2 separate regions of the Homo sapiens genome follow, and region 2 is linked to region 1. A link means that fine-mapping ties the variant in region 1 to the expression of a gene that starts in the linked region. Tissue or cell type: whole blood. Region 1 holds a variant in brackets; the other region holds the start of a gene. All regions are shown on one strand. Distances are from middle to middle. Region 1 holds the start of SHISAL2A (shisa like 2A). Region 2 holds the start of GPX7 (glutathione peroxidase 7).

Region 1 (5,369 bases):
CTGCCACTGCCTCTCACTGGGACACTCCCAGATAGTAACTTAACCTTTCTCAAGTTTTCTCATGTGTAAAATGAGAAGTGCCAGGGTTGTGAATGTGTGAGAGCATCTAACCCTTGGATAGTCTTAGGTAATGTTCTTTAAGTCTCAGTCTGCTATGATATTGCTAGGAGATCTCGGACAATTCACTTCCACACTGAATTTCACTTCCCACACCTATGAACCAAGGAAAGGGAACTCTCTTATTGAGCACCTAACATATGCACTGGTCACTTTCATGTGCATTATTTCTCTTAGTTCTTACAATTCCATCACACAAATATCTCTATCACCATTTTAAAGTTGAGAGAAAATACTAGGAAGTTAAATAACTTTTCCAATCCACATAGATAATAAGTGACAGATTCTGACCAGCCCCAAAGCTCCACACTGTCTCTGTACTATCACACAAATATCTCTATCACCATTTTAAAGTTGAGAGAAAATACTAGGAAGTTAAATAACTTTTCCAATCCACATAGATAATAAGTGACAGATTCTGACCAGCCCCAAAGCTCCACACTGTCTCTGTACTATCACACAAATATCTCTATCACCATTTTAAAGTTGAGAGAAAATACTAGGAAGTTAAATAACTTTTCCAATCCACATAGATAATAAGTGACAGATTCTGACCAGCCCCAAAGCTCCACATTGTCTCTGTACTTACAAGGGAGGTCAGTGCCATCTTATTTCAGAGCCTAGCTCAATGCCAACTACACAGTGGGCCTTCAACAAAACTTCATTGTTTCACTTTAGGTGAATGTTGTGAAAGTGCCCTAGTGAATATTATCACAGTAAGAGAAATCTGATACAGAAAAATTATCACAGTGAGAGAAATCTGACATAGCTGACTCCATCTTGTGTCTAACTTTACGAGCTGTCTTTCTTCATTCCTGGGCACAGGCCAAGTTAACTATAAGAGGAATTTAGTTTATAGTTTAACTTTAAAACAAAGATGATAACAGCCCCTTCCTAAAACTAACACCCTCCTTGCTCAGGGACTGCAACTGCCTTTGTTAAACTAACAAATTAACCACAAGGTTAGAATTATGGTTCAGGAGTCGTGTAGCTGGAGGTCACATGATTTGTAATCTCCTCAACTCCTCCTATAGGAGGAGTTGTAAAACCTAAAACTGGTGTTTGAGGTATCTTTCAGACCTTTCATTTTGATAGACCAGTTGGTGCCACCTGGACCAGTAACCCATACCAATAAACTGGCTCAACTGGTCTTGTGAGCTCCCCTACCCAGCAACTGACTCAGTGCAAGAAGGTAGCTTTGATCCCCTACGATTTTATCCCTAACCCAACCAATTGGCATTCCCTATTCCCTAGCCCCATCTGCCACCATTCCTTGAGAAACCATAGTCTCCGAATTCTCTGGTGGGGTGGGGGGTGGGGAATGAGGGTGTGGATTTGAGAATTATGTCCTATTTTGCCACTTGGTTGGCCCTGTGATTATTAAACTCTTTCTTTGCTGCAAAACCTGTTGTTCTCAGTGCATTGGTTTTTTTGGGCAGCAAGCAAAATGAACTTGTCAAGTGAATACCATTGTATCTCTAAATAAACTGTGAGTTCCTCAGGGGCAGGGAATAATTGATTTTTGTGTCTCCAATACCTTGCAAAGTGCCTGGCACAAAGTAAAGGCTAGAATGAATGAATGAATGAATGAATATATGGATGAACAGAAAATACATTAATATAATTCCCTGGGTTATAGATAGCACAAATATGTAGGATCTGATAACCTGGCCATCTGAAAATCATTTAGAATTGTGGATCGAGTCACCTAGAAAAAGCAATAATATTTGTAATTGTCATTGGCATATGTCAAGTTGATTTCAGCTCTGTTATGTATGTCATTTGACCGTTACCACTGCCTTAGTCAGAAATCAGGGCAATGATTGATCATCCTACTGCCCGTTTGATAGATGAAAAGCCAGAGACTTGAGAAGTTTTCGTGGCATAGGACACTGTCCTTTCCCACCCAGAGGGCAGCAGCCTCTGCTCATATACCTCCAGGGACAGGAAAATCACTAACTACTGAGATGGCCCACTCAATTTTTGCTGATGCCTGTTTCCCAAAGTAGGCTGAGGATCAAGTTCCATTCTCCAGGTAAGGCCTTTGGAGACCCAGGGGGATTGAGACCTATTACCCTCTCAAGCCAACACTTAGGCTCCAGGAATGCAACCTCTTCCCTGAACAAATGGGGAAACTGAGGTCCTATGGGTGGAGAGTCAACACTTCTATGAATATGGCCTGAGCTAGCTTCTGCACTATGCCATTGTCTCATGATGAACTTGGAGGCAGCTCTGACTCCCGAGTCTTCTGCCTTAGCTTGAGGATGGGGTACATCCCCAGCACTCACCACAGGGCTTGGCACACACCAAGTGCTCAGTAGAGAGTGCCCGAAAGAATGACTAAATACAAAAGGGAACCAAGGGTTGACGCTGGGCTGAGGCTGGGGTTGGGGTGTAGCACCAGGCGAGGGTTAAGTCTGGAGGTTGAGGTTTGGATGTAGATCTAGATATTAATAATATTTGGAGTCAGGATGTGGGAGAAGAGCTGAGGTGGGACTGCAGGCAGGACAGAAGAGGAGGTTGGGGCTGGTGATAGAATAAGGTCTGGGGTCAGTACTGGGGAGTGTGGAAAGTCAGGAATAAGGCTGGTGTTGATATTAGGAAGGGCACCTTGGTGGGATGATGATTGGGGTGGAGTTGGGCTGCCTGTGAATGTTTGAAGATGGAAGTTGCTGTTAGGGGGAGGCTTGATATGTGATTTGGGGTTGGGATGAGGGTGGTGATGGAATGAAGTTTGGGGTGGGGATAGAGTGAGGATTGTTTTGGATTAGAGGAGGGGGAGGTCCGAGCATGGCTCTAAATAATGGTTGGGGTCAGGATGAGGAAATCGAGCTGAGATGGGGTTTCACGGGGTGGTTGATGCTGTGGGCATGAGGACGGTAAGGACTAGAGCTTGCTGCTGATGTTCAGGTGGACACTCGGGTGGGGGCTGAGGCTGGGGTGAAGGCGCTGAGACTGGAGTGGGGTTCAAGGTAGGGTGAGGGCCAGGGACGGTACCTGAGCCACCACATGTAGCTGTGCTCGTAGGGGAAGAAGCTGTGCGGGTCGTCGCAGCAGTACTTGTGGTC[G/C]CGGAAGCCGCAGCAGAAGACAGCGGCCGCCTCGCCCCCCGGCCGCGGGCAGCTGAAGCCGCGCACCACCTCCTGCTCTGCGCTCACGTAGCTCGTGCAGGCGCCGCTCATCGCGCCCCGCGCCCAGCCCGCCGCCACCTCGGGCCACCAGACGGCCGGCTAGAGCCCGGCGGGGAAGCGAGGGACCGAGCGAGACGGAGCTGAGCCTGAGAACGGCAGAGACGAAGAGACCCAGGGGCCGAGAGAAGCCGAGACAGAGACAGCAGCGCGGGGCCCCGAGGACCGAGCGGCGGCCAGGTGCCCGGCCCGCGCGGAGGGGTAGGGGCAGGCGGGGCGGGCGGCGGGGGCCGGCGGCGGGAGTGACGGCTGCTGGAACGCGGCAGGAGCCGGAGCGGACGCGGGGAGCTGGGCCGGGAGCCGCGTGCTCGCCTGGCTCTGCCTGCGCTTCCTGCCCCCTCCCCACTGCGCTCCCCCTGCCTGCACGAGGGCGCTGGGTGCGCAACGACAGCACGACGCGGCCAGAGTGGCGGGGCGGGAATTCGAGGCCAGGGCGCGGGCGCCTTACCTGCACCGAGCCGGCGCCGGGAGTCTCGGGGCATTCGGGGCTGGGGCAGACAGACAAGGCACCAGCCGGCGACCACACGGCGGGGTCAGTGAGGAGAGTGAACACAACCTCACCCAACCTCCGCAAAAACCCAGGGGCCCGGGGATGTTCGCATCCGTGTTAAAGGTGAGAGCTGAGGGCCAGAGAGAAGCCATTTCCCGGAGTTCCTAAGCCCACGAGATTTTAACCGGGGGCGGCCTAGTAGGAAGTCCTTGCTCTTTCTGCGGCTTTCATGGTGCCTCTTTTCTAGCGGGCTTTTAGATGTCCTCATCATCTGGAGTCCCTGCTAGTCTCGCTGAGAGCTAGCTCGTGCACGGACAATGTCCACACTCTTCTGTTCATACTGCCTGCCACTGGCCTGGGACAAGGAGCCGAATATGGGTGTGGATGGGCCCAGACGGTAACCTCCTTCCCCACACTGACCAGCAAAGAAAGTCAGCAGACCTGTCCATTTTGAAAAATTACTTCCAGAGAACAAGGGCAGTGTTCTCACTAGCATCAGAGAACCACAGTCTGAAGGGGCTCTCAGTGCCTTGGCTTCCCCCATGTACCCTGTTGCCTTACGCCATCTGGAAGGGCTTCATACAGCACCTTCAGTGCCTTAGCTCTACATTTTTCACAGCAGTGGGTAGGGTAGGAAATAGTTACTGTGGTGCCTCGGGCACCCCCGATTCCTTCGCCCTTGGTTTGGACGTGTGGGGAACGGGCCGTGGGTATCAGGGGATCTGGGCTCCAGCCCAGCTCTACCCCTTCCCTGCTGTTTCTCTCTGAGCTTTGGGTTCCTTGTCCTCACCCAGGCCAGCTCCTCAGATGCTGATTGTGCCGCTGCCCTGACCTGGGTGGGCCCTAGGGCCCCTGAGAGGGATCAGATCTGGGCCTGCCGTTGAGAAACACACAGTCTGATGGAGGAGTCAGACTGACTGACGATCACAGCACAGGGCAGTAAAAAGGGAAATGCAAGGACCTGGACACAGAGGGGCACCATCTGAGGAAGCAGGGGAGGGCTCTGAGGGAGGCGGTGTCCTCAAGAGTCACTGTAAGGTCAAATATGAAAGCTGGAGGGAACTGTTATTATCCTCCAGAACATTCCTCCCCTGAGCTGTGGGTCTGAGCAGACTGGGAGCTGGAGAGCCTACACTAATGAGGGTGCACTTCAGCCTCTTTATCAGATGGAGAGTACAGGGGAGGAATCCTCTGGGAGGGAGAGGCTTCCTGGAGGCCTGGAGATCAGCTGGGAGGAAGAAAGCGCTCTGCCCTGGCTTTTGGCAAAACTAGAAAGCCTCCAACAATTTCCAAAACCCTCTCCCAGCCAAGAATTAATTTGTTCCTCCCAACAGCCCTCTGGGGTGAGCCACGCAGGGGTGAATGTGCCTGAAATAACAAGTCCAATACCACACAGCGATCAATGGCCCAGGCAGGGCTGATACCCATGTCTGTCTCCATGTCCCCCTTGGCAGTCTGATGAAGCCTATGAACCCCTATTCAGAATAGTGGGTTTTTTTTTGTTTTTGTTTTTTGTGTTTTGTTTTGAGATGGAGTCTCACTTTGTCATCCAGGCTGGAATCTCGGCTCACTGCAAC
Region 2 (5,369 bases), 32 kb after region 1:
AAATCTGGCTTCTAGTTCCATCCCTGAAACCAAAAAGCTTGGTCCTTAGAAACCAAAACACAGACAGACACACCCAAGTACACACAGTTAATTTACATATGTACATATACAAGCACAGACACAGACTCAGATTTGTACACAGAAGAAGTAAACCATTCACAAAGGCACACACTACACATAACCCCACACATTCCCAAGTGGTCACCCATTCATCCATACTGGTCTAAATGACTATGGTCCCAATTAGCCTGAGGGCATCAACCATGTCAATCTTGCTCATGACTATGTCATCAGAGCTGGACCCAGTGTCAGACATGTAGTAGGAGCCAGTAAATGTTTGCAGGTGAAGGAATGAGCATATTGCCCAAGCAGCAAGCCTAGCCTGGGTTAACTCAGCACCAATTACAGCTTTTCTGGACTCCCTGTTCCCTGGTTTACTGCTGAACTTGGCAACTAAGAGCATAGACTCTGGAGCTGGACTGTCTGGGTTCAAATTCTTACTGTCTTACTAGCTGTGTGACCTTGTTCTATTTTTGTCTTAGCACTTACTACTACTAGGAATTACCTCGTGCATTTCTCAGTTCCTTGTTTATTGTCTTTCTTCTCCTTACCCCATGTAAGCTCCATTTAGTGGAAATGTATCTGTTTTGTTCACCACTGTATCCCCAGGGCCTGACCTAGTATCTAGTTAGTATACAGTAGGTGTTCAATAATGAACAACGAATTAATAAGTAGCAGAGCTGGTCAGACGCTAAACCTGGGGCTCTCTGGTGAGCTGCCCTAGAGAGAACAGGAGGCCTGAATTGGAGCGGGCCCTGTTCTTGGTTCTTTGCCCAGAGTTCTAAATGAAGTTCCTGCTGGGATCCACCAAACACAGGTGCAAAGCACTCTACAGTTTACTAAGTGCATCCACGCCTTCATCTGATTTGAAACTCACGACACTCTGGGGGACAATCAAGCAGGGATTACTGTCCCCAAGACTCCCAGCATAATCGAAAATTTCAAGGCTTATAGAGTACTGGTCTTCACTAAAGATGGTGTTGCTCCCAGGAGAAAAATGTTGACATCTATTTTTGTGTGGTTCATCCAAAACTGGACGCTGGCCCACCTGTTCATTAGATTTCAACTCCCCAGCCATTTCACACCAGTCCCCAGGTCCATCCTGAAGAGGTCCACTCTGGGAGTTCTTCACTGCACATAATGTGACATGCAGGCCTCTCAATGTAGTGTTCAAGGTCCCGCCTGCTCCCTTGCCAGTCGTTTCAGCCTCATCTTCCACCACTCGTAGCCTCCAGCTTTAGACTCTTTGAAGCACAACAGCTGGAACTCCTGGCCCCGCGCCCCCCCACCCCCTTCTTGCTGTTTGCTTCTTAGTCTTGCTAAAATCCACTCGTATTCAAAGACTCAACCCAGATACCCTTCCTCTCCGAAGTCTTCTCTGAGCTTAGATTCCCTCTTGGTAATGAGGGGGCAATTAGCCTGGATGACTCTTATGTGTGCCCCTGAGCTGCCATCTAAGGACTTGGCCTAGAGAGGACCCCGGATGTGGCGGTGGGGTTCTCTTCCAGGCCCCGTCTTTCTAGTGTAGTGTGACCTTGTGCGAATGCCTGCCCTCTCTGGGCCTTTGTGCCCTCTCCCAGGGATGATCCGTGTGAGGTCTCCGTGCATCTGAAATAACTCTCTCTCTGCCCTGCACATTGATCTCCACAGTGTTCTTCACTGGACTCCGAATCAGCCACTCCCCGTTCCAGATGCAGAAAATGAGGACGGGAGAGGGAAAGGCCGCACGATGCTACGGTTACTTTTTTCACCCGTGAATGGCAAAGGCTGGGCAGTGGTGCCCGGCCTCCCGGCGAAGGTCTGGACCCCGCTGCCCAAAGGTGCCGGTAGCGAAGTGGGCGCCGACTGCGAGCGCTTCGGGTTCCTCCGCGCCAAGGCCGTGCCACGTAGCCGCGGGCCGGGCCGGGCCGGGCGCGGGATGGGGGCGCCGCGCCAGAGGTCACGGCCGAGCGGGGCGGGGGCCGGGGTTTGGCGGCCGCGCGGCTGGAGCGTCCTCGGAGCCACACCGCGCGGGGGACCGGGCTGCGGGGCGTCCCCAGCAGGCCCCGCCAGGGCGAGGCCGGGCCCAGCGGCGCCGCCAGACCCCGCGCACTCACCGATCCGCGGTACTTCTCCAGCGACACCAGTTTGCCCCGGATGTTGACCGCCTTGAAGTCGTAGAAGTCCTGCTCCTGCTGCGCGCAGGCCGCAGCCCACAGGAGCAGCCACGCCGCTGCCACCGTCGCCGCCACCATGGCTTGTTCCGGAGGTGGCGGCGTCGCGAGGGCAAAGACGGGGCGGGGGGATCTAGCGCGGGGGGCGGGAGGAGGCGGCTCTGGCGCCGCTCGGCCCGCAAGGCAGGACGCGCCGCGTTCTCGTTCCCTCCGCAGGCGGTGGATGTCCGGCTCTGGACCTCAGTTTCACCGTCTGTCCTGAGGCAGCGCACCCCTGCCCCGGACCCCAGAGCCAGGGTTTCAGGATTCTGTCCCCTGAGACCGGAGTTCGTTTCAGTGAGGCTCCCTCTTGTCCCAGGAAACAGCGACTTGGCAGGGACAGGGAGGCAAAAATCTGAGAGCTCAGCTTCTCATTAGTGCAGCGGCCTTAGGCTGGCCTGGTCACGCCCCCACTCCGACCTCAGTTTCTCCACATGTTAAGTGGAGCTAGTCGGTATAGGATGGAAGTAATAGAAAAACGGATGCGAAACACTTTAACAGTTGAATGGTGCCTGCAAACTTCAGGTGAATGAATGCATGTTCCCTGAAAGTGATGGCTGGGAGAAGAAGAGAGGACCGTGGGCCTGTTGCAGGTTAGGTTCCTGGAAGCAGATTCTGAGATGGAGATTGGAGTGCAGGATGTTTATGAGGGAGCACCCTTGGGATCAACAGGCGTGGGAAGGATGGGAGGGAACAGGAGTGGCACAGGGGGAAAGTAGTGAGCTCCATGCAGGCCCCAAGACAGTTTTAGCTGACTCGACAGGGACTCTAGAGCTAGAGTAGCCCATCAGATGAGCTAAGATGGCCAGGTCATCCTGCCTTTATCAGTCCTTGGATGTGGGGCCACCTGGCAAGTGGGGCAACAAGGGCCAAGATGGCCCTGTCTGTGGAGAAGCTGACATTAAAGGCTTTGTGCTAACAGCACTCCTAGCAGCTGGTGTCTGTCCTAAGTCCTCAGTGATGGGGGATCTGGGCAGCACATCACAATGTCTCCCCCTGCTCAGAAAACCCCTGTTGAGCCCATGAAATGTCAAACATGGAGCTGGATCCTGTACTCACAGGCTGTGAGTTTTTTCTGGAAACTCACAGACTGGTGTGAGAGAAACCAGGTAAACTGCAGATTTTATGTAATGTGGTAAGGGCTAAGCACTCCTGTGGTCATCAACAAAAACTTCCTGAGCACCTTTTCTATGCCAAGTTTTGCTTTAGGTGATTCTTAGGCAGGGATGAACAGGAGGGCATTATCTCTATCCAGGGAGACACAGGAATTAAATAATTTATAAATAGCTCTAAAATTACTGTTGTGGTGAGTACCACCTAAACTAGCCTGGAGGGCCATGGAGGGCTTTCCAGAAAAAGGGAGATTTGAGCTGAGCTCTGAAGAATGAGGAGAAATTGGTCAGGATGAAGCAACATACAAGTGCAAAGGTCCTGGGGGGAAAGGAACATGGTGCATTGAGTAACAAAGAAGCCTCATTTGGTTGGAACAGAGAGGACAAAGGATGAGAGGGAAAGGTGGAGAGGCAGGAGGGAGTGAGATCACACAGAGCCTAGTAGGCCACAGTAGGGACTGTGGTCTTTAAACCAAGAAATGAAGGTTCTTTTTAGCAGGGAGGTATCACAATGAGTCTTTTGTTGTAGAAAGATCTCTTTCGACAGGGCCCGGTGGCTCACACCTGTAATCCCAATACTTTGGGAAGCCAAGACTGGAGGATTGCTTGAGGCCAGGCGTTCAAGACCAGCCTGGGCAACCTAGCAAGAACTGTCTCTTCAAAAAATTAAAAAATTAGGCCAGGCGCGATGGCTTACGCCTGTAATCCCAGCACTTTGGGAGGCCTAGGCAGGCAGATCGCAAGGTCAGGAGAACGAGACCATCCTGGTTAATGCAGTGAAACCCCATCTCTACTAAAAATACAAAAAATTAGCCAGGTGTGGTGGCACACGCCTGTAGTCCCAGCTACTTGGGAGGCTGAGGCAGGAGAATCACTTGAACCCGGGAGGCAGAGGTTGCAGTGAGCAGAGATTGTGCCACTGTACTCCAGCCTGGGTGATAGAGCGAGACTCCATCTAAAAAAATAAAAATTAAAAATTAGCCTCGTGTGGTAGCATGTGCCTGTGGTTCTAGCTATTTAGGAGGCTGAGGCAGGAGGATTGCTTGAGCCCAGGAGTTCAAGGTTGCAGTGAGCTATGATCATACCACTGCACTCCAACCTGGGTGACACAGACACTATCTCAAAAAAAAAATCCTTCTGGCTGTTCTGTGGAGTTGATAGGAAAGGGCAAGAGCAGATGTGGTCTAGATGTTGGAGTTGACGTAGCTCCAGGGCTACCTCCTAGAGACCCAGAGGCAGTTGCTACCTAGCCTGAGCAGCCAGGCAAGGCCTTCTGGAGGTGTGAGGTGATACTGGAGTTATATCTTGAAAGAGGAATGGGAATTCTCTAGGAGGGTCAGGGCAACAACGTCAGACTGAAAGAGCAGTATCTATGACAGCACAGAGTCAGAGAAGTGCTTGGCTGTTTGAGGTGAGAAGGGGTGTGGGGCAGATGAGATTGGAAGGGTCATCAGGATAGAGAAGGGCCTTGAGTGCCAAGTCACTCTCTAGAGTGTGGCAAGCAAAGGTTTTGAAGCTGGCCACAAGATCATATAGTTACTAGGACTCGAACCCAGGCCTTCAGGTGTAGACCATGGGATTTTTCTGCACCACCAAGGTGGCCTCACTCTTCAGGAGAAGGCAATATTATCAGGAGAGGTGGAGAGCAGAGGAAACGGCGCTCCAGGCAAGGGCCAAGGCATACATAAGGTGCCCCTGCCCATCCTGCTCCTTCTTCCCCATCTCTTTTGGGAGCCTTAAGCCTGTGATGGGTCCCACAGCTATTAAATGGTCTCTTCTCTCTCTGCCTTCTGGAACCATTGGGCTCTCTTCCTGCCACCTGTCCCTTTCACTCAGCCCCTTCTTGAGTGTCCCAGTAACCAGGAGTTCTCAAATTCTACTTCATATAACTTGGAGTGTTGCAAGTTTGGCCAAGCTATTTCCTGTTAAAATCCAGATAGATGAGCCGGGCGAGGTGGCTCACATGTTTATACAAAATTAGCCGAGCGTGGTGGTGCATGCCTGT

The links.
Region 2: GPX7 starts here. The variant in region 1 is fine-mapped to the expression of GPX7 in whole blood (TOPMed, PIP above 0.99).

Annotation. Positions count from the first base shown.
Region 1 is chr1:52,631,421-52,636,789 of GRCh38, reverse strand. It overlaps SHISAL2A (shisa like 2A), which reads right to left and starts at 3,622. Exons shown (of 3, transcript NM_001042693.3): 1 at 3,115-3,622. The coding sequence starts at 3,296. It overlaps LOC124904178 (a long non-coding RNA gene), which reads left to right and starts at 3,335. Exons shown (of 2, transcript XR_007066084.1): 1 at 3,335-3,482. RefSeq lists silencers at 3,295-3,344, 3,355-3,544, 3,635-3,744. The variant G/C (reference allele first, on the strand shown) is at 3,186.
Region 2 is chr1:52,599,335-52,604,703 of GRCh38, reverse strand. It overlaps GPX7 (glutathione peroxidase 7), which reads right to left and starts at 2,333. Exons shown (of 3, transcript NM_015696.5): 1 at 2,157-2,333. The coding sequence starts at 2,294.